Regions from separate parts of the Homo sapiens genome. Here regions 1, 2, 4, 5, 6 and 7 are each reported to be linked to region 3. The links are microRNA targets in miRTarBase. Many come from high-throughput screens and were not tested one by one. Region 3 holds a microRNA gene; each other region holds the end of a gene's coding sequence. Distances are from middle to middle.

Region 1 (3,219 bases), not on the chromosome of region 3:
ATTTATTTATTTATTTATTTTTTGAGACAGAGTCTCGCTCTGTCGCCCAGGCTGGAGTGCAGTGGCACGATCTCGGCTCACTGCAAGCTCCGCCTCCTGGGTTCACGCCATTCTCCTGCCTCAGCCTCCCCAGTAGCTGGGACTACAGGCACCCGCCACCATGCCTGGCTAATTTTTTTTGTATTTTTAGTAGAGATGGGGTTTCACCGTGTTAGCCAGGATGGTCTCGATCTCCTGACCTCATGATCCACCCGTCTCGGCCTCCCAAAGTGCTGGGATTACAGGCGTGCGCCACCGCACCCGGCCTAATGTAAGCTTTTGTCCTGGAAGGAATGTTGGCCACAGCTAATGGCAAAATTTGATTTGCATTTATGAGTGTAGAAAAAAATGCCCACATACAGGTAACTTTCAATATTATATTTGCCTAAATCAGGAAAATACGTAAATGTTTCAGATGTACTCTCTGAAAGGTGTTTAATGCTTTTTTTTTTTTTTTCCTATCAGTGAGAAAAGATCTATGGGTACTAGTTGTGTGTGGAGTATCTTAGCCACTATGAAGCGTAAGCCCATTTAGTTTCAGGATAGAAAAACACAGTAAACGAAGCGCTATTTCTTGGCTGTGAGATAATATTATTTTGAGAAGATGTCATCTGTGACACAGCAACTGACAGAAGCAAACTGACTCATCTGGTTTATCTCAGTAGATGGCATAAAGTATAACCTTGCCCAGGAGAAGTGGCAAAGAATTTCTTATTCATATTTATATCTTTAGTTTTGCTATCCAAAGGAACACACCTGCTAGATTCTGAGTTCCATAGTCTTAGACTGGAAGGAACTTCCAAAATAGTTCCTGAGCTCTTTGTTTTCTGGGTGACGAGGTAATTTGTTCACTGGCTTCCCTGTAAAAGTCTAGAAGCCAGTGCTGTGGTGGCCCATCACACACTGTGGGTCTCATGAAGGTTGGAGAGAGGAGTCTGTTCAGATGGAGCTTCTTGTTTCTGCTTCTTACTCTTCCTGCTTTTAAATTCCCAGGCCTCATAGACTCTGAACTGCTTGCTTCGATCTGCAATACTGCCTCTCTTCCAAGGGCTTTGTCTGGCTCCCTAACCTTGATCTATTTCGTGCTTTCGATTTTGCTACCGGTCAAATGGGCCCTACTGGACTTCCGAATCATTGCTTTCTTTATCTTAGATGCCTGCTAGGCCACTCGATCCTTCCAGAAGCTAGAAAGCCTGGCTTGCCCCTTGTCTAGCCACCTTTCCCAGGCTGTGCCTCACTTTGTGGTGTATAGAAGTTACTCATTTCAAAAGCTAGGGAAAGTTACAATTTACCTGTCAGTAAACAGAAGATGGTTTATCAACAGACTTTACCTTAATGACTACAAATGTTTACCTCCTGCTTTCCAGAATGCAAAGAAAATCTTGGAAATGTCATAATATCTTACAAACATTTGCAAAACAGATCCTTGTTCATCCGGAAAAGAAACAATTGTATTTGTTGTCTCTGTCACAAGGAAAACGTTCAGTGAGAAACACATAGGTAGATGTATACATCTATATGTAAATGAATATGCTAATTAAAAATTGCAGTGGGTACTTTATTAAGAATTTATTTTACCATCTAGCCATTCAAAACATCTTTACATCAACAAACACAGCAGTTTGACTATTGAAATCATAAGCGATTTATCTTGAAAAGGTTATATTTGTAGGTGGATGCAAGTATATTGGAGAAATATTTCTATCAAAATCACTGGTTTTGTTAGGAGTATTTTGATTTTTCTATTTTTACGCTGGGAAAAAAATTAAAACAAGTATGTCAGTGTTCATTTTATGGGATAGTTGGCTTCACTGTGTTTGTCATGTTTGTCCGAATTACAGCTGTTTATCTTGCAACTTTAAGATTAATTAAATGCAAATGTAACTCTGTGAATCATGGGAATACCTGCCAGACCTCTTATTAATACCTTCACTTAAAACCCCCTGTGCCTGAGAGTCATTAATTTGCTAAAAGAAAAGTGCTAAAGCAGCCCTTTGCCCACAAACAATTCTGCGATGGCTGCCCAATTAATCCCAAAGCATTCTGATCCTCCTTTCAGGCCTCGTGGCCCTTTGAGGACACAAGAAGGCTCCGATGATAACCTGGCAACCTAGGTAGAAACCCAGCCAAGTGTGAGCGTTTGAAGCTGCAGTTTGGCTGCCATCGTGTCGGCGAAAAGAAAGAATTCAGGCACCATGTCATCCAGTACAAAGGATAAAAACGGATTCAACCGGAAATTCAATGTGGCACCACATATGGGATACATGAGTGCGGTTATACAACAGGCCACATATTTTTTTTGAACAGTCTCCTACATGTGATGCCGAGGACATGTGTAACCATCATAACGTCTCTAGGAATCTGTATTTAATTTGAGTTGGGGTGGTGGCAGGGATTGGAGATCTGAAGCCGCCACAGGTTTGTGGCAGATGGCTCTGTGTCAGCTATGACAAGCAGCCAGGCTCAGCTTCCTCTGCAGATTTTCTTTTCTCTCTGATCAGGTAAATATGGGCACACTCTGGAAAGTTCTTCAGATTCTGCCTTAGGCTGCAAGTTTGTGACTTAGCCCCATCTGTCACAAATCTTCCCTAGGTTCTGTTGTAAGCAGAGACCTGAATTTACCATGTAGGGCTGCCCAAGAAAACGGAGCGATTTCACCCTGCAACGAGGAGGAGGGAGAGAAGAGAAAGAAGTGAAGAGCATTAATGACTAAAAGATGAAAGTATGCTGAAAATTTATATTGCAAATTTGCATCACTTACGTCAATTACATTTCAAAAAGCCACCAAGTAAATGGTTCTTGAGTTTCATCACCTCAGGAAATCTCAGTTTCTGATTGGTCTAAAGTGTCGTTGTATTTCCAACCAGAGAAGAAGGCTACTGTTTTCTGCAAATGGGTATATTCTGCTGCACACATATTTCTTGGTTTATGTTATGAATGACAACCATTCATAGTTGGATGATGAAAGTTCATCATCCAACTTTTAACTTATATAAACACAAGACACGTAACACTGTACATACAAGTTTCTGCCGTGAATTTTACTTTTAAATGATGAAGACACAAAGATAAATGCCATTACTATTATGTGAAATTTAAAAAGTGCTTCATATTTATAACAGGTTTATATTCATTATTTCATTATACCAGTACTTCAGGGGTACATTGATATTTAAAAAA
Region 2 (3,219 bases), not on the chromosome of region 3:
GGGCTCTGCCCGGTGGCACCTCAAAGTCAGGTACCCCAGGGATGCAGCCCCCAGGGCCCATCTGCATGGAGGAAGGCAGTGTTTTCTGACCAGGGCTCATTCACCCAACGGGGGTCTATAATTAGCACCTGGTTCAAGTCAGCCCCTATGTGACAGGCACTGGGGATTTGGAGGCGAGCAAGAAACTTCCCACACCAGCTCTCCACGTATTCCCCTGGTGCCAGGTTCTCCACCCTCTGTGTCTTTGAAGTTGCTGTTCCCTCTACCTTAGACTGAAGGTGAACTCCAATATCCCCTTCAATTCTGAGCCTAAATACCAAGGTCCTTGGGCAGAAGGGGTCCTCCCTTCCCGCCCCGTGTTCATCTCTCTATCATAGCACACAGTACTCTGGGTCATAGTAATGGATTTCTATGTCCTTCGCTCCCCACCCTCCCAACCCCCTTCCCCGGGCTGGGAGCTAGAGCTGCAAGGCTGGGGCAGGCCCTTCAGTCAGCAAAAAAGCAAGGGCTTCCTCAGCTGCGGGCCCAGGGCTAGGCTGGGTCAGACATAAAGAAAAGACTGACCCTGGGAGCTCACTCAGATGGGGAGAGAGTCAGGCAAACAGTGAGCCAGTGGAGTGCTGTGGAAGTCAGGGCAGAGTGCAGTGGGAGCCCTTAAGCATGGAGAGGAGGCGGGCAGGTGAGTGGGTAGGAGGAGCGGTCTTACAGGCAGAGGGAACAGCATAAGCAAAGGCCCAAGCCTTTGGGAAGCGTGGGGGATAGGGCTGGAGAGGCATGGGAGGTGCAGGGAGCCGAAGTGTCGAAGGGCTTTGTGCGCTGAGCCTGCACCTTGGGATTTCTCCTGAAGGCAACAGCGCCCCTCCTCTCCAGGGGGTTTTGGCCGGGAAAGGACCCCATCCGAGGTCCTTTAGACTGATGCTCCTGGCTGTGTGAGGAGGACAGGAGTCAGGGGAGTTTAAGAGGCATTTGCAGAAAGTGACCAGGGCTGGGGTTGGACCCAGGGCAGAGGGAATAGAGAGAAGGACATATATTTAGAATAGATTTCAGAGGCTGTATCAAAACAATTTGACGATGACGTTGAAGGTGGGCAGAGAGGGTGGGGAGAGAGAGGAGGTAAAGATGGTGCTGTCACTGAAATGATAGACCTGGCAGGAAGGGGAGGAGGGGAGACAGAGCTATTGGGGCAGCGCATGGAGTACCCCGGTGCAGGGGTTCAGCCAGGAGGCAGGTGAGCAGGGCAGAGGGGAAGGCGGCATTGATGCATGGGTGCTGTCATTGCCACTGAGTGGACAGGCATCCAGGGGAAGCCTGGAGGGTGGCTTGGTGGGGGCAGGGTCAGGGGCAGCAAGCAGGGGCCTGGGCCTGTTCTCTGCGCCTGCACCAGCCCCTGAGATCGTCTCTGCTCCCCCTCTGCAGGCCTGGAGTTTGCCTACTCAGAGGCCCCGCGCTCCATGCAGGGCGCCATCATGGGCATCTTCTTCTGCCTGTCGGGGGTGGGCTCACTGTTGGGCTCCAGCCTAGTGGCACTGCTGTCCTTGCCCGGGGGCTGGCTGCACTGCCCCAAGGACTTTGGTGAGTATGGGGCCTCCCCAGGAGTGGGACATGGATGGAGGGAGGCTTGGAAAGGAGGTGGCAACTGCTAAAGTGCTTTGACTCTGGGGAGAAGCAAGTAGAGGGCTAGACTTGGGAGAATGGGGTTCTAGCCCGGGCTTGGCCAGTCACCCACAGCGTGGCCTCCCTCCTTGGGCCTTTCTTTCCCCAAGTGTTGAACTTAGTGGACCTCCAAGGCTCCTTTCTGCTTCTGGAACTCTGCCATCTCTGGCTGAAGGGTTACCTTTCTCATGGTGTTTATATTTCACGCCCCCTTCTGAATAGCTGAAGAGGAATTGTAGACACCCCTGGAGATCTTCAGGAAGTCAAACATTAGTGGGTATCTGTCCAGTGTCTTCAGATCCCACCACTGCCCACATGGCCTCAGTTGCCAGCCCCAGGGCTAGGACACGGCAGGCACAGGGCGCAAGACAGAGGATCCCTGTCCTGACCCAAATCTAACCCCTCCTTTCCCCAGGGAACATCAACAATTGCCGGATGGACCTCTACTTCTTCCTGCTGGCTGGCATTCAGGCCGTCACGGCTCTCCTATTTGTCTGGATCGCTGGACGCTATGAGAGGGCGTCCCAGGGCCCAGCCTCCCACAGCCGTTTCAGCAGGGACAGGGGCTGAACAGGCCCTATTCCAGCCCCCTTGCTTCACTCTACCGGACAGACGGCAGCAGTCCCAGCTCTGGTTTCCTTCTCGGTTTATTCTGTTAGAATGAAATGGTTCCCATAAATAAGGGGCATGAGCCCTTCCTCACGACCATGGTCCATGACAAGGGGCAGGGCAGAGGGGGCCTGGATGGGAGTCCTTGTGGGGGACCAGGCAGGGGACTTGGATCAACAAGCACCAGACGAGTGGCGGGGGCAGGCGAGAGGCTCAGTGGGACCTCCACCCTCGTTGCCCCAGCTGGTGGCTGACCAGGTGGCTGTGGAGGGTCAGGAGCTGCCCCGGATCCTCTCCATGTAGTTGCGAAGCTCCTCAGGGTCCTTCAGCCCCATGTCCTCACACACCCAGCGGATGTCCTCCTCGCCTGCCACAAGGATGGACTGCACAGCAGGGGCCCCTACAGGCTCCTCAGGTGACTGGGCTGGAGGGGCTGGCGCAAATGTCACAAACTCTACTCGCTTCCGCCGCCCCCCAGCCTCCTTTCGGGCCAGGGTGCTTGAGGAGCTGGTGGTGCCCCCAGGAGGGCCAGGGGCCAGGGTAGGGGCCTCCCCTCCTCCCCCACTCTCACAGGGGCAGCTCCCCTCCCCCTTGGGCGGGCCAGGGGACTGCCGGTCCAGCTGGCGGCTCAGTTCCTCCTGGTCAGTGCCCAGCCAGACCCAGTTGTGGGGCTGGGGGGAGGTGGGGTCAGTGGCACTGTCGGGAGGTTCTTTGCGCTGATAGCGCAGGACGAAGACCACACCATTGACCAAGAAGATGAAGATGGCCACGCAGAAGACTCCCAGCAGGGCGTACATGCCCAGCTCTAGCTCAGTGACATGCTGAGGGGCAGGGACCATCTCCTCCTCCTCTTCCTCCTCCTCCTCCCTGGCTTCGGTCTCCTCCTTCCTGGCCTCCTCCTCTGCCCGCTCAAACTTGCCCCTCACACCTGTGTTGCCCCCGACACTGCCTGCCACC
Region 3 (3,219 bases):
CAAGTCCCCCGTGGGCTGTAGAGCCTAGCGCTGGTGTCAGAATCGCTTGTTGCAGGTTCATCTTCAGTGTCTTTCCCACAGCCACATGCTGGGGAAAGACGGCAAAGGCGCTAGAGGAGCAGGAGAACAAAGCAAGCTGCCCCAGACCACCCGGCTTTCGCAGAACCCAGATGATGCTCCTGTCTCCCCCTAAGTATAACGTGTTATGTAGTCAGTATGATCCCATTCAGTGCAGAAGTATCGCCTAGGAATTTCCTGCCCCACCCACCCTGTTTTGTTCTTAATGAAGTTCAAGAACAAAATGAGATGATAGTCAAGTTATGGAGCAGGCTGCAGTGGATACAAGGGCAGAAACACAGTCTTTGGAGTTAGACCTGGGATCTGCATTGATTGGTTGTGTGACTGCAGACAAGTTATTTAGCCTCATTAAGGATGAATTTCTTCGCAAAAATTGGAATAATACCTGCCCCATACGACTGTTGTGAGAATTAAACACCGCAACTTTTGATGTTCAAATTCTATTTCTTCTCCTTCTAGCAACACATACTGTTAGTGCCAGGAACCATAAAAATTATAAGGCTGTATCTAGAGGCCTGAAAGGAAGCTAAAATATACAGTGTCTACTCTGTCTCTTTTCTCTTGGTTATGGTATCAGAGGAAATACACATATTTTCTTAGCTTCAAACCACCAAAAAAGATGATGCAGTAAGGAGATGGGAAATCTAATTTGGAATACAGTGTGCAAATCTTATTTTCAAGCAGACTTTGAAAATAAAACTCAATTCTTACGTTAGAGGATTATCTGCTTAATACAATTATAGGGTACCAGTTTTTGAAGTCACATCGGGGTTAAATAAGATTGCAGGTTCATGGGGTCATATTTGAATGTTCTGATACTTACATATGGGGTGGGAAGGAGGAATGCATGCTTTTCTCAAGTTAAGACACATAAAAGAGTTGTCCTGGCCCAGGTGAGACTCGCCTTTGTGTAGCAGCTGGAGCTTCATTCCACAGGCAGATAGGGTGCTTGTGTCCTGATGAAGTAAGAGAATATATCTGGAAACACTTTGTGTACTGTGAAATACTATACAAATGCAGGGCAGTACAAATGTAAATATTAATGTATTTTAGTAATAATTTTAGCTTTTATTTCATCATATATAATAATTTGTAGTGACTGGTGTGAAGTTAAATAGAATTAACCTAGAATTAATGAGTTTTGTATTGCTCTCATCTATTTGAAGCATCAGCTGTGCCTTTCATGTTGCCTTGTGCAGCCCTGTGTAACCTCCTCTGTGCCTTTCCCATGGAGCACTGTGTCATATCACAAGTAGAACTACAAGAAGATATTTCTCCTCAGGGCAGAGGCTGGGTCTTCCGATTGAATCTCCCTTCTTTCTTCATTGAGATCCTCTTCTTCTGGAAGCTGGTTTCACATGGTGGCTTAGATTTTTCCATCTTTGTATCTAGCACCATTTGAAATCAGTGTTTTAGGAGTAAGAATTGCAGCACAGCCAAGGGTGGACTGCAGAGGAACTGCTGCTCATGGAACTGGCTCCTCTCCTCTTGCCACTTGAGTCTGTTCGAGAAGTCCAGGGAAGAACTTGAAGAGCAAAATACACTCTTGAGTTTGTTGGGTTTTGGGAGAGGTGACAGTAGAGAAGGGGGTTGTGTTTAAAATAAACACAGTGGCTTGAGCAGGGGCAGAGGTTGTGATGCTATTTCTGTTGACTCCTAGCAGCCATCACCAGCATGAATGTGTTCGTAGGGCCTTTGAGTGTGGCGATTGTCATATTCTGTTGGATAACAATGTATTGGGTGTCGATTGTCATGGGGCAGGGGAGAGGGCAGTACACCTGGAGGACCATTTTGTCCACATCGACACCATCAGTCTGCTCTTAGAGGATGCCCTGGAGTATTCGGCGTTGATTGCGGGGCACCCGAAATCAGACTTGCCACCTGGACTGTCGAGGTGCAGACCCTGGGAGCACCACTGGCCCATCTCTTACACAGGCTGACCGATTTCTCCTGGTGTTCAGAGTCTGTTTTTGTCTAGCACCATTTGAAATCGGTTATGATGTAGGGGGAAAAGCAGCAGCCTCGAAGCCTCATGCCAACTCTGGGCAGCAGCAGCCTGTGGTTTCCTGGAAGATGGATGGGCAGAGAATAGGGAAGGAAGATCATGCTTTTCCCTACTAACTTCTGTAACTGCATGTATGATACATTATTGCAGAGGTAAGAGATAGTTTAATGGATTTTTAAAAACAAATTACTATAATTTATCTGATGTTCTCTAGTTGCATTTTGCTGAAATGTAGTGCTGTTCTAAATTCTGTAAATTGATTGCTGTTGAATTATCTTTCTGTTGAGAAGAGTCTATTCATGCATCCTGACCTTAATAAATACTATGTTCAGTTTATCATGTCTGTGTTTTTCATCTATTATTTCCCATTCATAATTCTGTGATGATAAGAAGTGGGTCCTGAAAAATTAATTGGCTGTGCAGATCTTGCCTACTTCATAAAGAATTTGAAGTAGGTTACAGCCAGCCAGACATTAAAAATGAAGCCCATTAAGAGAAGAATGAAATTCTATGAGCCAAGAAATAAAATGAGAGAAAAGATTAGGGAAGAGAAGAAATGTTGAAGATCAAGGCTGAGGGATGCTCCCTACTGAATGGGAAAACTCCTTAGTTCCACATGGGCTGTAGACACAGCCCTTCTGCCAGCAACTGTTCCTGCAAGGAACTGGTGCTCAACTAAACATACTGTCACATGGTTCCTTGAAGGGGCACAGCACTGATTTCACTTGCATTATAAAAGATTGAGTGGTGCTTTTGACTATTAGTTTATGTCAACACTTCAAAACAAGATGAGCCAGTTTTTTTTTGTTTTTTTTTTTTGTTTGTTTGTTTGTTTTAGACGGAGTCTCACCCTGTCACCCAGGCTGGAGTGCAATGGCACTGTCCCCGCTCACTGCAACCTCCGCCTCCCGGGTTCAAGCAATTCTGCCTCAGCCTTCCGAGTAGCTGGGATTACAGGCGTGGCACCTCCACGCCCAGCTAATTTCTGTATTTTGTAGTAGAGACGGGGTTTCATCATGTTGGCCAGGCTTGTCTCGAACTGCTGACCCCGTGATCCACCCACCTCAGCCTCCCAAAGTGCTGGGATTACAGGCGTGAACCACCTCGCCTGGCCCAGTGAGCCAGTTTTGTAAAGC
Region 4 (3,000 bases), 99 Mb from region 3:
AACACTGGGTGATTTGAAATTTGACTTTAATATTTAAAAATAAATTTATTAATAATCTAAATTTTCAAGTCAAATTTTCTAAACTCAAAACATAAACAGAAGTGAACTTGTTATTTAATAAACAGATTTTTTCAACAGCTATATGGTTAAGATGTTCTTAACCATGCTCTCAGAAAAGGACAATCAGAAAGTAAGGCAGACACTTAGGCAACCCTTAGCGAGTATTTTGAAAGGACTGCACTGAAATTTGAACACAAAGTGTGCCAATGGAACACAAAATAGAAAATGGATCCAGACTTTTGCTGACTACAGAAGACATAGACATTAGTTCTTTTTTCTTCCTTATCAGTGTTTCTATTTATTAAAATATTTGTTATATTTACTACTACATAAATCAAGGTGTATCTGATGGCTGCTAAGATTATAAAGGCATGATTTTTATGCTTTTCAAAATCTCTCTACTTTTTAAAAAGAATTCTGTACCATTTAAAATACTGAGAACCAGTCTTGTATAGAGAGGTGTCGGACCAAGGGCAGCCAAGGATGAGTAAGATGGGCATCACCCTGATTGCAGCACCTCTTACGTGTCTGATGAATGTCCTCACTGAACCCCACTTACAATCTAGTTTTATCATTTTCAAAACTGCAAAATCATTTGCACAGCACCAATAAAAATATAGCCTAGAAATAATATTTTGAAAATAGAAAAATATGTTTTTAAAAAATGTCATAATAAATATCTCTCTAAATAATATCTTCATATCTCTATAAAAAACTTTCTTTGATTTTTCCCATAATATATAATGAACGGATCAGTTCACATGAAGACATAATGCAAGTCTTTACCACTTAAGTCCCTTGGTTAGGCTAAAATGTTCAGGTCAATGTTTTATTCTTAAAAATAAATCTTAAAAAATAAAAAGTATAACTCAGAACATTCTCTCTCTCAGAGTCTCTCTACATTCAAAATATAAAACAGGGTATCATTTTTTAAAAACTTCCAGAATCTCTTTGTTGGAATAGTATTGGATTAATGCAGAATACTCAATCCTTGAAATATAAAAAACAGCAACATAAGTTCTAATATTAACTATTCAAAATTTTCCAAACCTTTAAATTTGGATATTAAAATAATATAATTTCCTCCTTATTTTTGCCAACGTGAAAACACCTAGACCAAAGTCATTCTATTCTGACATATTGTCTTTCTTGGATATGACTTTGAAAGTAAGAATTGGGGAATTACTGGTTATACAGATTCTACATTTTTCTTCACTAATAGTGATTCCAAGAAAGTTTAGATCTTTCCACATGGAAACCGTCATGTAAGAACAGAAAAACTCTAAGGTTTATCTGCTGTGCTGCTCAACTGGATCCAGACCAGGTATTCTTATTTTAAAAGCTATATTTGATAGATGTTATATTCTACTCTTGCTTCAAAACAAATCACTTTCGACACAGTGGGGAAGAAAACAGTACCTACAGAGAGCTAAAATGGAAACCTAGTAGTCTGCATCAGTCATGGCAAGCAGCTGTCATGCTGCTACCCACCACCACTTCGGAAAACTGTTAGCCTCAGATAAGTCTGAATTTACATAGAAAAGGCTTCTCTGTTTCTGACCATATTACAATTCTCCTCTTTTTCTACATTTTGACTCCTGAAACCAGCAGATCTTAATATTCAATGAGTTAAGATAGCTCTTCTGTTAGGGTGCCCAACACAGTAAGTGTTAAACTTATTTTGAGTCTTTTATGTAGTGCTTGGGGGTGGTTCTGCAGCTCATCTAATATTAATGACAATTAACAATATATACTGCATAACGGCATTACATCCATTCACGTATCTCTGACTTAAATGCACTTGTTATTTCATTTATGACTGATACACTGAGAATTATGAATAAGCACATCACATGTTTAAATTGTAGTCTAACATTTTCCCAAAGCATGAACACCCACACTTTATACAATGCTGTAGGTAGTGTAATAGGGAAGATTTCCAGAACAGGAATTACAACTATCTTGACAAAATCTATAGGGTTTAAGTTATATTCATGTACTGTCTCTCAAACTAAAAAAACCAAACCATAGAGCCCAAATCTATTGAGCCTCTTGATCACAGATTTTTACACTTGAATCCTAAAATGATACTCCGATGTATATAATGCTGTTTTCTCCGCTGGGGTGTTCTGAAAGAAAAAGCAGGCTTTTCATTATGATGTGCAGTGACCACAGAAGCCAGGTGCTTCCAAGGCACACAGTGGCACAGTGCCTGGAGACTGCCATGTAGATGTTCCCCTTTGGTGGCTGGTACAGGATGGCGGTGGGTCCTTCCAGAGAAGAAACCAGCATTGGCTTTCCTCTTGATAGTTGAGGTTCATTTTCTATTAAGTGCTTGAATAAAATGCCTTGATACATCAACTACTCACATCTTAAATCCACAAGGAAATGTTTTCACCGACTTGACTTCTAGCGTTTGATCACAACTTGTTCATAAGCTCCAGACCCCACCCTAAAACAGCAGTGGAAAAAAACTTCAAAATTTTGAGCTGCAGTGTTTGAAACTGTTCCAAGTAACCTTACCCCTGGAGAGATGGGGCACTGGGTATTTTTCTACTAGATTTGATTTCCATAACGTTTAAAGGCATCACGGATAGAAACTATGTGAAATATTAAATGTTTATCATTAATACATTGGATTAGCCTAGATCCTGATTCTCTCACACTTATTCCCACAATAATCTATTAGAATTCCCCAATTCTTGACCTATCGACAAATGGTGGCAAGAAATGCTCTTCAAACATGTTTATCTATTCATTCTAAAATAGGTCTCATCCAAGAGCATATGTTGACTCTGGCAGTGCATCAGGACTTGCACTGAGTTAATGATGATGGTCTTCAGCTGTCATAATATTGTGGCGTTTTCATGGCAGGGTCTCATTCTGTTGCCCAGATGGAAGTGCAGTGGCATGACTGAAGCTCACTGCAACCAGAACTCC
Region 5 (3,000 bases), 160 Mb from region 3:
GGAAATCAGTCCTCTCAAGTGCATGCTCCCCACCTTGAGCCTGCTAACGATTGTTGAGTGCAGTCCTCACAGAAAACGGTACTTGTGCAGGAAAACAGTTTGGTTATGGGAGTATAGGATGACTCACTGACAAATGGAACCTGTATATTATAGGTCCCTCGATGAATATATGAGAAGGCACTTGATGGGCAAAACCATTAGGTCACTTCCTTCCACGTGATGATTATTGGCTCTGTCAGCCCCATTATCACAGAGTATTCAAGAAATACTTTGTGGTCACTGCCCTCTTAATATAGGGAGCAAAGCAGAGTTTGGGTGACTTGTATATGCTTCCTATGACTGAGGCCTCAGTTATATAAGACAGAATGGCTTAAACTAGGCTCACTCATGCCCAGGTTCTGTTTGTCTTCCAGGCTGAGAATCAGGCTGAAAGCCGGGCAGCAGTGGAGGGGACAGTGGAGGCTGGAGCTACAGTTGAAAGCACTGCATGTTAAGAGGGGGCACAGCCCTCCTCCCAAGGGAAAGTGTTTTTGTATATAATGTATTTTTTCACTTTTGGAGGATTCTTTTTGTATAACTTCAATAAAGATTGTAAGCAAAGGTTGAGGCTTTGATGGTTTTTTTCTTAATTATTGGCTGAATCTGCCTTGGAGCACTGCTGGTTTTATATATTAGCCAAAGGTTTTGTTCTGGCCTTCTGTACTGATCTGTGTTCCTGATCCTAATTCCTATCTGTCTAACGTGGAGGTGATCAAGTGTGGCTGTAGGCCTTTGTTTTCCAATGGTGCTATATTCTGTTTTCAAACACTTCACTGAACCCAGCTGTCTTGCAAACTTTCAGTGGTGCTGTCCCTGGATGGGGGCTACAAAAACAAGAATTGGTGAAGATCTTGCTCTTCAGTGCTGAAAATGGATGATGGACTTTGGCTGTGAGCCAGGCCTAGGATGGTTCTTGTCCTATATCCACCTAGTCTTCACCTGGGGCTATAATTCTGTCCTGGAAAAAGAACTCTGAAAACCTGGGTCAGGGGAATGATTCCTAAGGAAAACGGTCTGCATTTGAGCTCTGGTTTGAAAGTAGCCAAGGGGACTGATGGTGGACACTCCAGATGTGGTTGGAAGCATATGTGGGGAGGCTGGCTGGTTGAGTTTTGTTATTTTCTGTATAGAAAGGTTGAGATATATCAACACTTGGAATTGTTACCCATCTGCAGAATTGACTTCTCAAATAAAGATGCTAAAAATCTCCTTGTCTGGAATTATGTTTAAAGATCTTAAGTGGGGTCTTAGGCTGCTTTTTTGAGATGGGATCTTGCTCTTGTCGCCCAGGCTGGAGTGCAGTGGCGTGATCTCGGCTCACTGCAACCTCTGTCTCCTGGGTTCAAGAGATTATCCTGCCTCAGGAGGCTCCCAAGTAGCCAGCACTACAGGCTAATTTTTGTATTTTTGGTGGAGACGAGGTTTCACCATGTTGGCCAGGCTGGTCTCGAACTCCTGACCTAAAGTGATCTGCCCACTTTGGCCTCAGGAAGTGTTAGGATTACAGGCGTGAGCCACTTCACCTGACTGCCTGGAGCATTTCTGTGTGCGATAGAGGGTTTCAAAGGCAGAAACGAGCCCACCAGTCCAAGGATGCTGGTGGTGAGGGCACTAGTATTAATGTTAGACCTGTTGTGCTCTCACTGGTGTCTAGGGGTCAGGGCTCACTTGAGACTGAACTGCCTCTGACCTGACTCTAAGTACCAGTTAGGATCTGAATTCCAAACAATGCCTGCCCTATATCACCACCTCAATTTAGTAGTCATGACACCCATAGGGCTGCTTTTGTTGCACTGGAGGCAGAGGAAGCGATGGCCGGCCCCTAAATTCAACCCAATTTTTCAGACTAAGTAAGTTTTTCTGGGCTGGTCACAGTAACTCATGGTTGCAGGATCTCTGGCTTATCCTGGCTGTGGAGTTTCTTCCTGATGTTGCCCTTGCAGTATATGTTCCAGGTCCTGAGGCGCTTTGCCCCCTTTTCTTGGTCAGGACAGTCACGATGTAGTTTACTCCCAGGCACTTGACCTTCTCTGGTTGGCACTGGGATCTAGGGCTAGGCACAGTATCTAAGCTAGATCTCACATGTGACCCCTGGTTGGGGGAACAACCTTGGGCTGGGGACCTATCCCAGAATCAAAGTACATAAGGCCTCAGGAGCTTCCTGTTTATGGGTACATTGAGAACCTGAAAGGTTTCCTGGCAGAAATACTGAGGAAACGGATTTAAGTTTGGCAATAAAACTGGCTTTACCAAAAAAAGCAGTGGGAACTAGTGGGAATTTAAAGTTGCTTTAGTGGGAATTAATGCCCCCTAGTCACCTTTCGGAGAACTTCATAAGTGCCAGACAATATCACAAATACCTGACAAACTCATTTAATCCTTAATCTGTTTTACAAAAACAGAAGAGGTACAGAAAAGTTAAGGACTTAACGGGAGGTGGTAAAGCTGTGGTTGGAACTGGTTTTCTGTACTCAACTGCTAGATGCTTCTAGACCCAATGTCAGAACATGGAGTAGTAAACCTGTAGGTCTGGAAATAGGCCCCAGTCCTGTGCATGTTCAGATGCTCATCTCCACATTCACTTGGGTTCAGAAACTCACTGGGGGCAAGTCAGAACTGTGGTGAGGGCCCAAACCCTCATCTCTATCCTTGACTCCACTGAGGGGCTCTTCTGTACGAGGTGGGGGATCAGCAAAGCCAACTGCGGGGGTGAGGAAGCTGGCTTCCAGTGAAGATGTGCTGGACACCTGTGGAACAGGAGAAGGCAGGTTTTGAGCAAAAATGTAAAGGTTAAGCACACAGGTTTTGGAGTTAGTTAGGCTTCCTTAGAGTCTCACTTACTGTGAACCAAGTTAACCTGCTCCTGCTTTGATTTCCTTATCTGTTACATAGTAGGACTTCATAGAGATGTGAGGATCAAACAAGAAAGCATTGGTAATGACTGGCACACAGTGGTCAATA
Region 6 (3,219 bases), not on the chromosome of region 3:
TGGGCAACAAGAGCGAAACTGTCTCAAAAAAAAGAAAAAAAAAAAGATTTGGTAACCCCATATTTTCTGTCTAGTTCTAGTAAATTGTATGACTTTATTTCACTGATGAATTTCTTTTGTTTTCTCTCATTTAATCTTTTTAATACTATGAAGTAAGTATTATTAATATCCTCAACTTATCATATGAAAGAATTTAAGTACAAAGATGTAAATAAATTTTCTGAAGCCTCGCAGCTAGAAACAAAACGTAGGAATTTTGATGCAGGAAATCTCAGGACAGAAGCCATGCTCTCAGCAACCACACTAAAAGGCCTTTCACGTAACATGGTGCTGAGCACGTAACATAGTTATGTTGCAAAAATGTACTTGCAGAGCAAGATTATTCACCTATTCATTCTTGAAAATCAGCGTGTTATGAGTTAGTCTTAAATTTCTCCAAGGCAAAACTATGACACAATGTATGCCATGCTAAATTATGGAAATATTTCATCCTGAGATGCCAAATTTTAAAGCAGAAATACTGAAAGTAAATATAGTTTACATTCCATAGATTTTGTTGTTCTTGGAATTCTTCATGCTTTTTCTAACCCTCCACCCTTTGCTCATTTTCATTATCTTTACATGACTTAGTTATGCCAATACCTCCTAGCCTACTATAATCTGCACTACTCTGCTTGGAATGCCATAACAAAATATCATTGACTTGCTGGCTTAAGCAACAGAAATTTTTGTTCATACAGTTCTGAAGGCTGGAAGTTCGAAATTAGGGTGCCAGTATAGTCGGGTTCTGGTGAGGTCCCTTTTCCAGGTTGCAGAGAGTCACCTTTCACAATGTACTCACATAGTCTTCCCTGGATGTGAGAGCTAGAAGGCCATGAGGTAGATGAAGCAGATGAAGGGAGGGAGGGTAGTAGGGGAGAGCAACCTCTTCCTCTTCTTATAAAGCCACCAATTCTATGGGATTAGGACTCCACCCTTATGACCTCATTTATCTTGGTTACCTCCTGAAAGCCCTATATTCAAATATAGTCACATTGGGGGTAAGGGCTTCCATATATGAATCGGGGGCATACAATGCAGTCCATAACATCATCTTTTACATTTCAATTGCATTTTCTCCATTCTTAGAATTAATATATTGGAATCACCTGTACACTTACCTGTGTCTCGTTATACATGTGTTCCCTCAGGCCAAATTCTAACTATATTGCCATTGTATCCCAGGCACCGAACCTATCCATGTGGTGAGTACTGTTGGATGAATAAATCAATGATACCAAATGGCTTTATTCTGATTCTTTACCAGCTCTTAGAAGCAAATGTCATAATTAAAGCAGGGGTGATAGGTTTGTTGGCTTAAGCAGATACCTGGGCCTTTACTGGAGATAAAACACCAGAACAAGCCTTATGCTCATTCAGCCACTAAACATCATAAATTTTAGTCCCCTCCAAAGTCCTCATCAAAATAATAGAATTTGCACGACAATAAAGTTAAACACTGGGCAACAGCCATGACTGTGCTAGGAAGCAAGTGTTTCAACTGTTCAGGTGTGTAGCACACCAATTCAATTTGTAATTTCTTATTTCAGGTGAACACATTTTTTAAGAATAGGCTGAATGATTTCATAAATTATATCCATTGAATAAATGACCATGCAATATACATACCATACTCAACAATCAGTTAAAATTAGGTATAAAAAAAGACATTGTAATCAGGCCTGTACAAAACTTTATTATACTCTGAATAACAAGCATGTAACAAAATTTTGAGCATGACAAGGATGAAATATTTCAAATTCTGTTTCTTACAAAAGCATTAAGCACAATACACAAAGACTGTTCATAATATTTTACAGTCAGCTAAAAATAACAAGACATTCTAGGATTTCAGGAGTTTTCCTTTTCTTTCAACTAGAGCATTAGCTTTATTTCCATTAGCTTTGCTACAATGAAAATTAACATATATGGACATACACATATAAGTGAAATGGAAAATGAAGGCATACAACAAACATTCCGATTAATCAACAAGTATAAAATAGTCTTTTAGTACTTCCAAACTTACATTTTCTTTGAATGTACAATGAAACTTTTTGTCTAAAATGTTTTTAATGTTAATTTTGACCATTCCCAAAGTAATTAATACTCTTTCTTAGCACCACCATTAATCTAATTTTAGAGTTTGAAATGAATTAAGAAACACTCTAATCTTATTCAGAGGTGCTATTCACAACACCGAACAACAGGCAATCCACTGCCCCTTATCAAGGCTGAGACACTGTAGTAAATGAGTAGTTCACCAATACTGTCTATCCCAGGTGAATATCAGCCCTGATCTTACTTCCAATGATGAGATACATGTTTTGGCTTATGTAGTAGCATGAGCTATGAGATAGGAAACATGAAAGTCACATGGACATGAAATTAAACTCAAATCTCTACTGCATGGAGGCTGAATGTGAAATATTTCACAGTGACTAAAACTGACTGGCTAACAGGCAATGGTGGATTTTTATATTCAACTTTGATTAACATAAATGGACTTTACAAGAAACCCTTGAGATTTAATTAATGCTGCTAATCCAAGGGCTCCAAATGACTGAGGAGCCTTTAAAATCAGTATATGTGATCTTTTATATTTTTTTCCATAAGAAAAAAAAAATAAAAACACCGAGGTACTTAAGTTTCTTTTCAAGGGATTACTGTTGGTTATCTTCCTGAGATGCAAAAGACCACAGAAAAAGCACCATGCCTAGGCTGCTGAATGAGGCATCAGACACTAATAGTTTGGTCCTTTTCTGAACGGATCTCTTCTGGCAATTACACTAAAACATAGTGATGGGTCGCAGATGCCTGGGGGGCCTGGTTGCCCTTGGATTCCAGGTTTTCCATGGTCTCCATCTTTGCCAGGGAGACCTGGGTCTCCTGGAGGACCTTCTTTGCTTATTCCAGGAGGGCCCTCTGGACCTAAGATGGGACATTGGCAAGACGTAAACAGAGGACTTTAGTTTTTTATAATGAAATAGCCAATTCTGCAAGAAACTTAAACTGAAAAAAAAAACCTTGAATATTTTATATATTTGCACTAATTATATAGTAGAGGCATTTTCTTGATAATTCTACATGTCTTCTGCTTTGAAAAGAACCATCCAAAAGTTAAAGTTATCAGTAATTTTTGAAAACTAGGCTAAGCATATTAACATAGTAACCATGCTA
Region 7 (3,185 bases), not on the chromosome of region 3:
GTCTCGCTGTCTCCCAGGCCGGAGTGCAATGGCGTGATCATAGCTCATTGCAGCCTCGATTTTTGGGGCTCAAGCGATCATCCCACCTCAGCTTCCCGAGTAGCTGGGACTACAGGTGTGTGCCACCATGCCTAGATTAAAAAAAAATTTCAGTAGAGAGGTCTTGCTATGTTGCCCAGGCTGGTCTTGAATTCCTGAGCTCAAGCAATCCTCCCACCTTGGCCTCTGAAAGCCTTGGGATTCCAAGCATGAGCCACCATGCCCTGCTCCAATAACTTTTGACTCCGTTAGCAAATGGTTTAAGTTATACCTTTTGTTTCCTGTTTTACTGAAATAGAAAACTGCAGAATAGCAGAACAGCACTAATAGTGATAATTAGCCACCTTATCTTTCAAGTGTGATGTTGGCTGTTGGTCTGAAACTACCTTATCAAGCTAGCTTTACCTTTAAAGGTTGCCAGGAATGGTTCTTGAATGTGAACAAATGCCTTGCCATCTACGGACAAAGATTTCTCAACTGACAATGAGGCGATTAATATTACACTACACATATCCCAGGGGCAAATCACACTTGATCATGCTCTATTTTTGTAGTATCCCACTGAATGAGATTTGCTTCCATTTCCCATAGGATTATTCCATCTGTACTCCCAGCTTCCACATCCAACCCCCAACCTCCAACCCAGGAACCCCCCCTTTACTTTCAAATTTAAATTACCTGCCAGACCTTTATTTCAAAGAACCAGTTAATCTTACTGCTTATTGACAAATTCTACTCTCTGCTTATTCTTTTTTTTTTTTTGAGACCGAGTCTCATTCGGTCACCCAGGCTGGAGTGCAATGGCGTGATCTCAGCTCACTGCAACCTTCGCCTCCCGGGTTCAAGCGATTCTCCTGCTTCAGCCTCCCAAAGTGCTGGGATTACAGGCGTGAGTCACGGAACCTGGCTGGGACTGGCGCGGTGGCTAGGACTGCCAGTAGCTGGGACTGCAGGCGCACGCCAGCACGCCTGGCTAATTTTTGTATTTTCAGTAGAGACGGGGTTTTGCCATTTTGGCCAGGCTGGTCTTGAACTCCTTATCTCAGGTGACCCACCCGCCTCAGCCTCCCAAGGTGCTGGGATTACAGGCGTGAGCCACCGCACCTGGTGTATCTCTTCCATTTTAAAGTCCTGCTGGACTCTAAGCAACTAAACTCCTCCTGCCTTGAATTATATGACCCCTCTCTGCTTAACCTCAACTCCTGCTCAGCTTTAGGCTGCAATCCAAGTGCACCGACGATGGAAAGCTTTCCCTGACTCTCCAGGCTAGGTCAGGCACTTCTATGTGCACTGAGACCCCTTTCTTCATCTGTCACAAAACTAATCACTGTCTTCGCCTCCCTACTAGAAGCTCAGTAACACGGATGGGGCAATTCCTCTGCCTTCTCAGTCATCAAAGCAGGGCCAGGCACAAAAGAGTGGGAACACTAAAAAAGGGGAAAATGGCTAGCAGCCTTGGCTCCAGGACCAGGGGATCAGGTTAAAGACACACCCTTTCTTTCCTAGACCCACACTTTGGGACAAGGTCAAGGGGACAATCTGTTCAGAGGTAGCACCCCAGGAAAATGAGAAAAACCACACAAGGCAAGCACCACTTGGGGTTATTTTTTCTAACTAAATTTTTATTAAATTATTTTTTCTTTGAAGGCTGGAACCATCGAAGTCCTTAGATCAGCTTTAAGCACTGGATGGAGTAAAAACCACAAGGGACTACAAGGTGATCTGTGAACAGACTGGCAGACAGATGACGAGAGAGGGAGTGACGACAACAAAAATAGACAAACAAAAATAATGGTCTTCTGGCGACCTAGTTAAATTACTCGCTTATTAAAATTTATTAGAAATAAACAAACATTAATGAAATAAAAATCTAAAACTGAGCCCCAGACTCAAGACTACTAGAAAGGCTCACCAAGTAAAACCCTCGGTTGGGTCAAGTGAGCTCTCTGAATGTTTTGTACAACCTGCTGCAGTTTGTTCCCCTTGAGCAAGGTGATGCTTTGTCCTGGGCTGCAATCTCTAACACCATCACCATCCCCAAGTGCAGCTCCCATTCTAAAAAAAAAAAACAGATGCCCCCACCCCCAATTCCTGGTGAACTGCTCATCTCTCCTGACTGCAGAAACTGACTCTGAAGGAGGAAGTTGCACCAGTGGTGGAGGCAGGTGGGCAAGCGGGTAGGGCAGGGATGGTTTCCTGGAGAATCCATCTTTTCTCCAGATGCCTAGCATGTGCTTAAGAGTTTTTTGTTTTTTTTTTTAAGTTTGAAAAAAACTCCATTGTGAAAAGTGAGTTATGAAGAGTGCTCTTTATTTGAAACCTCCACAACACAGACGCCAATCTTGTCTCGCATTGAATCATTAGCTGTGCACATCAACACATTCCAAGCACAAATTAAGAAATGCAAACAGAACAAAAAAATATATATATATATAATTTTTTCCCCTATCCAAAGGTTTCAAGTCTCAATGCAGCAAATCCTTCTGAACACAGAATCTGAGGAGCACACTGTTCAAACAGTTGGGACAGACAGGTCCCTGCAAAGGCTACTGCCTTTTTAAAACACATGGGGTGGGGATCATGGACGGCATGGAAAGGGGAGAGAAGGTGAGGAAACAGGCGGCGGGGAGAGAATGAGAAGAGGAACAGGTATGCGCTGGGGAAGATGGGGCAGCTGGGACACACACGGTGAGTTGGTGGATTTCATTTATTGGTTTTTGACAATTTCTTTCTGGTTCTTTTTTTAACTCCCCCCTCCCCAGGTCCAACAATGGTAAAAAAAACCCCACGGAGTTGGGCAGGGCCTTATTAGGCCAGCCCAAAGCCTTCAGAGCACTCCTGGATAGCCAACAGTAGCATGTGGCGGAGCTTCTCAAAGCTCTCATAGGCAGGCAGATCCAGCTGATTAAAACTAAGGAAAGAAGAAAGATCAGTTTGTGGTGAGGGATGACAGATAACCAAATCTGTGTGTTCCCATGGTGCCCACCAGCCCCTCCCCTCCCTGAAGAAACCAACTCCCTGCTTCTTGATGACTCCCAATCTTGTCTCAGCCCAGTATGTCCCCCTTTATCTGGCTCCCAAACTGGCCATCAGGCACCAAAACCAAAAATCTGACCCTGTCACTCCTCCTTAAACACCCTGGCCTC

What was found. The annotated mature microRNA hsa-miR-29c-3p reads UAGCACCAUUUGAAAUCGGUUA and lies in region 3 at 2,054-2,075, shown strand. An mRNA with a match to its seed (bases 2 to 7 or 8) in the 3' UTR can be bound and repressed. Matches are read on the target gene's strand: a 7mer-m8 pairs with bases 2 to 8, a 7mer-A1 pairs with bases 2 to 7 and ends in A, and an 8mer does both.
Region 1: the mRNA of QTMAN is a reported target of hsa-miR-29c-3p. The part of its 3' UTR that is shown has no 7-base or 8-base seed match.
Region 2: the mRNA of TMEM132A is a reported target of hsa-miR-29c-3p. Seed matches in the 3' UTR shown: 7mer-m8 at 2,442-2,448.
Region 4: the mRNA of EEIG2 is a reported target of hsa-miR-29c-3p. Seed matches in the 3' UTR shown: 7mer-m8 at 662-668.
Region 5: the mRNA of NASP is a reported target of hsa-miR-29c-3p. Seed matches in the 3' UTR shown: 8mer at 783-790 and 7mer-m8 at 842-848.
Region 6: the mRNA of COL21A1 is a reported target of hsa-miR-29c-3p. Seed matches in the 3' UTR shown: 7mer-m8 at 2,746-2,752 and 8mer at 2,157-2,164.
Region 7: the mRNA of HUWE1 is a reported target of hsa-miR-29c-3p. The part of its 3' UTR that is shown has no 7-base or 8-base seed match.

What each region holds. Positions count from the first base shown.
Region 1 is chr2:143,944,438-143,947,656 of GRCh38, forward strand. It overlaps QTMAN (queuosine-tRNA mannosyltransferase), which reads right to left. Exons shown (of 12, transcript NM_001376312.2): 12 at 1-2,698. The coding sequence ends at 2,615. The region is part of intron 2 of QTMAN-AS1 (QTMAN antisense RNA 1); the gene reads left to right. Among named protein-coding and RNA genes, the nearest start is that of QTMAN-AS1, 9.0 kb to the left of the region's middle.
Region 2 is chr11:60,936,223-60,939,441 of GRCh38, reverse strand. It overlaps TMEM132A (transmembrane protein 132A), which reads right to left. Exons shown (of 11, transcript NM_178031.3): 11 at 2,283-3,219. The coding sequence ends at 2,535. SLC15A3 (solute carrier family 15 member 3) reads left to right here. Exons shown (of 8, transcript NM_016582.3): 7 at 1,417-1,572; 8 at 2,069-2,358. The coding sequence ends at 2,223. Among named protein-coding and RNA genes, the nearest start is that of TMEM132A, 13 kb to the right of the region's middle.
Region 3 is chr1:207,800,721-207,803,939 of GRCh38, reverse strand. MIR29C (microRNA 29c) reads left to right here and starts at 2,001; the gene lies at 2,001-2,088. MIR29B2CHG (MIR29B2 and MIR29C host gene) reads left to right here. Exons shown (of 6, transcript NR_135299.1): 6 at 1,278-2,422. It overlaps MIR29B2 (microRNA 29b-2), which reads left to right and starts at 1,417; the gene lies at 1,417-1,497.
Region 4 is chr1:108,634,620-108,637,619 of GRCh38, reverse strand. EEIG2 (EEIG family member 2) reads right to left here. Exons shown (of 11, transcript NM_001010883.3): 11 at 1-2,512. The coding sequence ends at 2,470. Among named protein-coding and RNA genes, the nearest start is that of HENMT1, 25 kb to the left of the region's middle.
Region 5 is chr1:45,617,648-45,620,647 of GRCh38, forward strand. It overlaps NASP (nuclear autoantigenic sperm protein), which reads left to right. Exons shown (of 15, transcript NM_002482.4): 15 at 414-1,246. The coding sequence ends at 494. It overlaps CCDC17 (coiled-coil domain containing 17), which reads right to left. Exons shown (of 13, transcript NM_001114938.3): 13 at 2,397-2,786. The coding sequence ends at 2,628. Among named protein-coding and RNA genes, the nearest start is that of CCDC17, 4.9 kb to the right of the region's middle.
Region 6 is chr6:56,054,875-56,058,093 of GRCh38, forward strand. COL21A1 (collagen type XXI alpha 1 chain) reads right to left here. Exons shown (of 30, transcript NM_030820.4): 30 at 1,716-2,970. The coding sequence ends at 2,783. Among named protein-coding and RNA genes, the nearest start is that of BMP5, 180 kb to the left of the region's middle.
Region 7 is chrX:53,530,462-53,533,646 of GRCh38, forward strand. HUWE1 (HECT, UBA and WWE domain containing E3 ubiquitin protein ligase 1) reads right to left here. Exons shown (of 84, transcript NM_031407.7): 84 at 1,635-2,950. The coding sequence ends at 2,848. Among named protein-coding and RNA genes, the nearest start is that of MIR98, 24 kb to the right of the region's middle.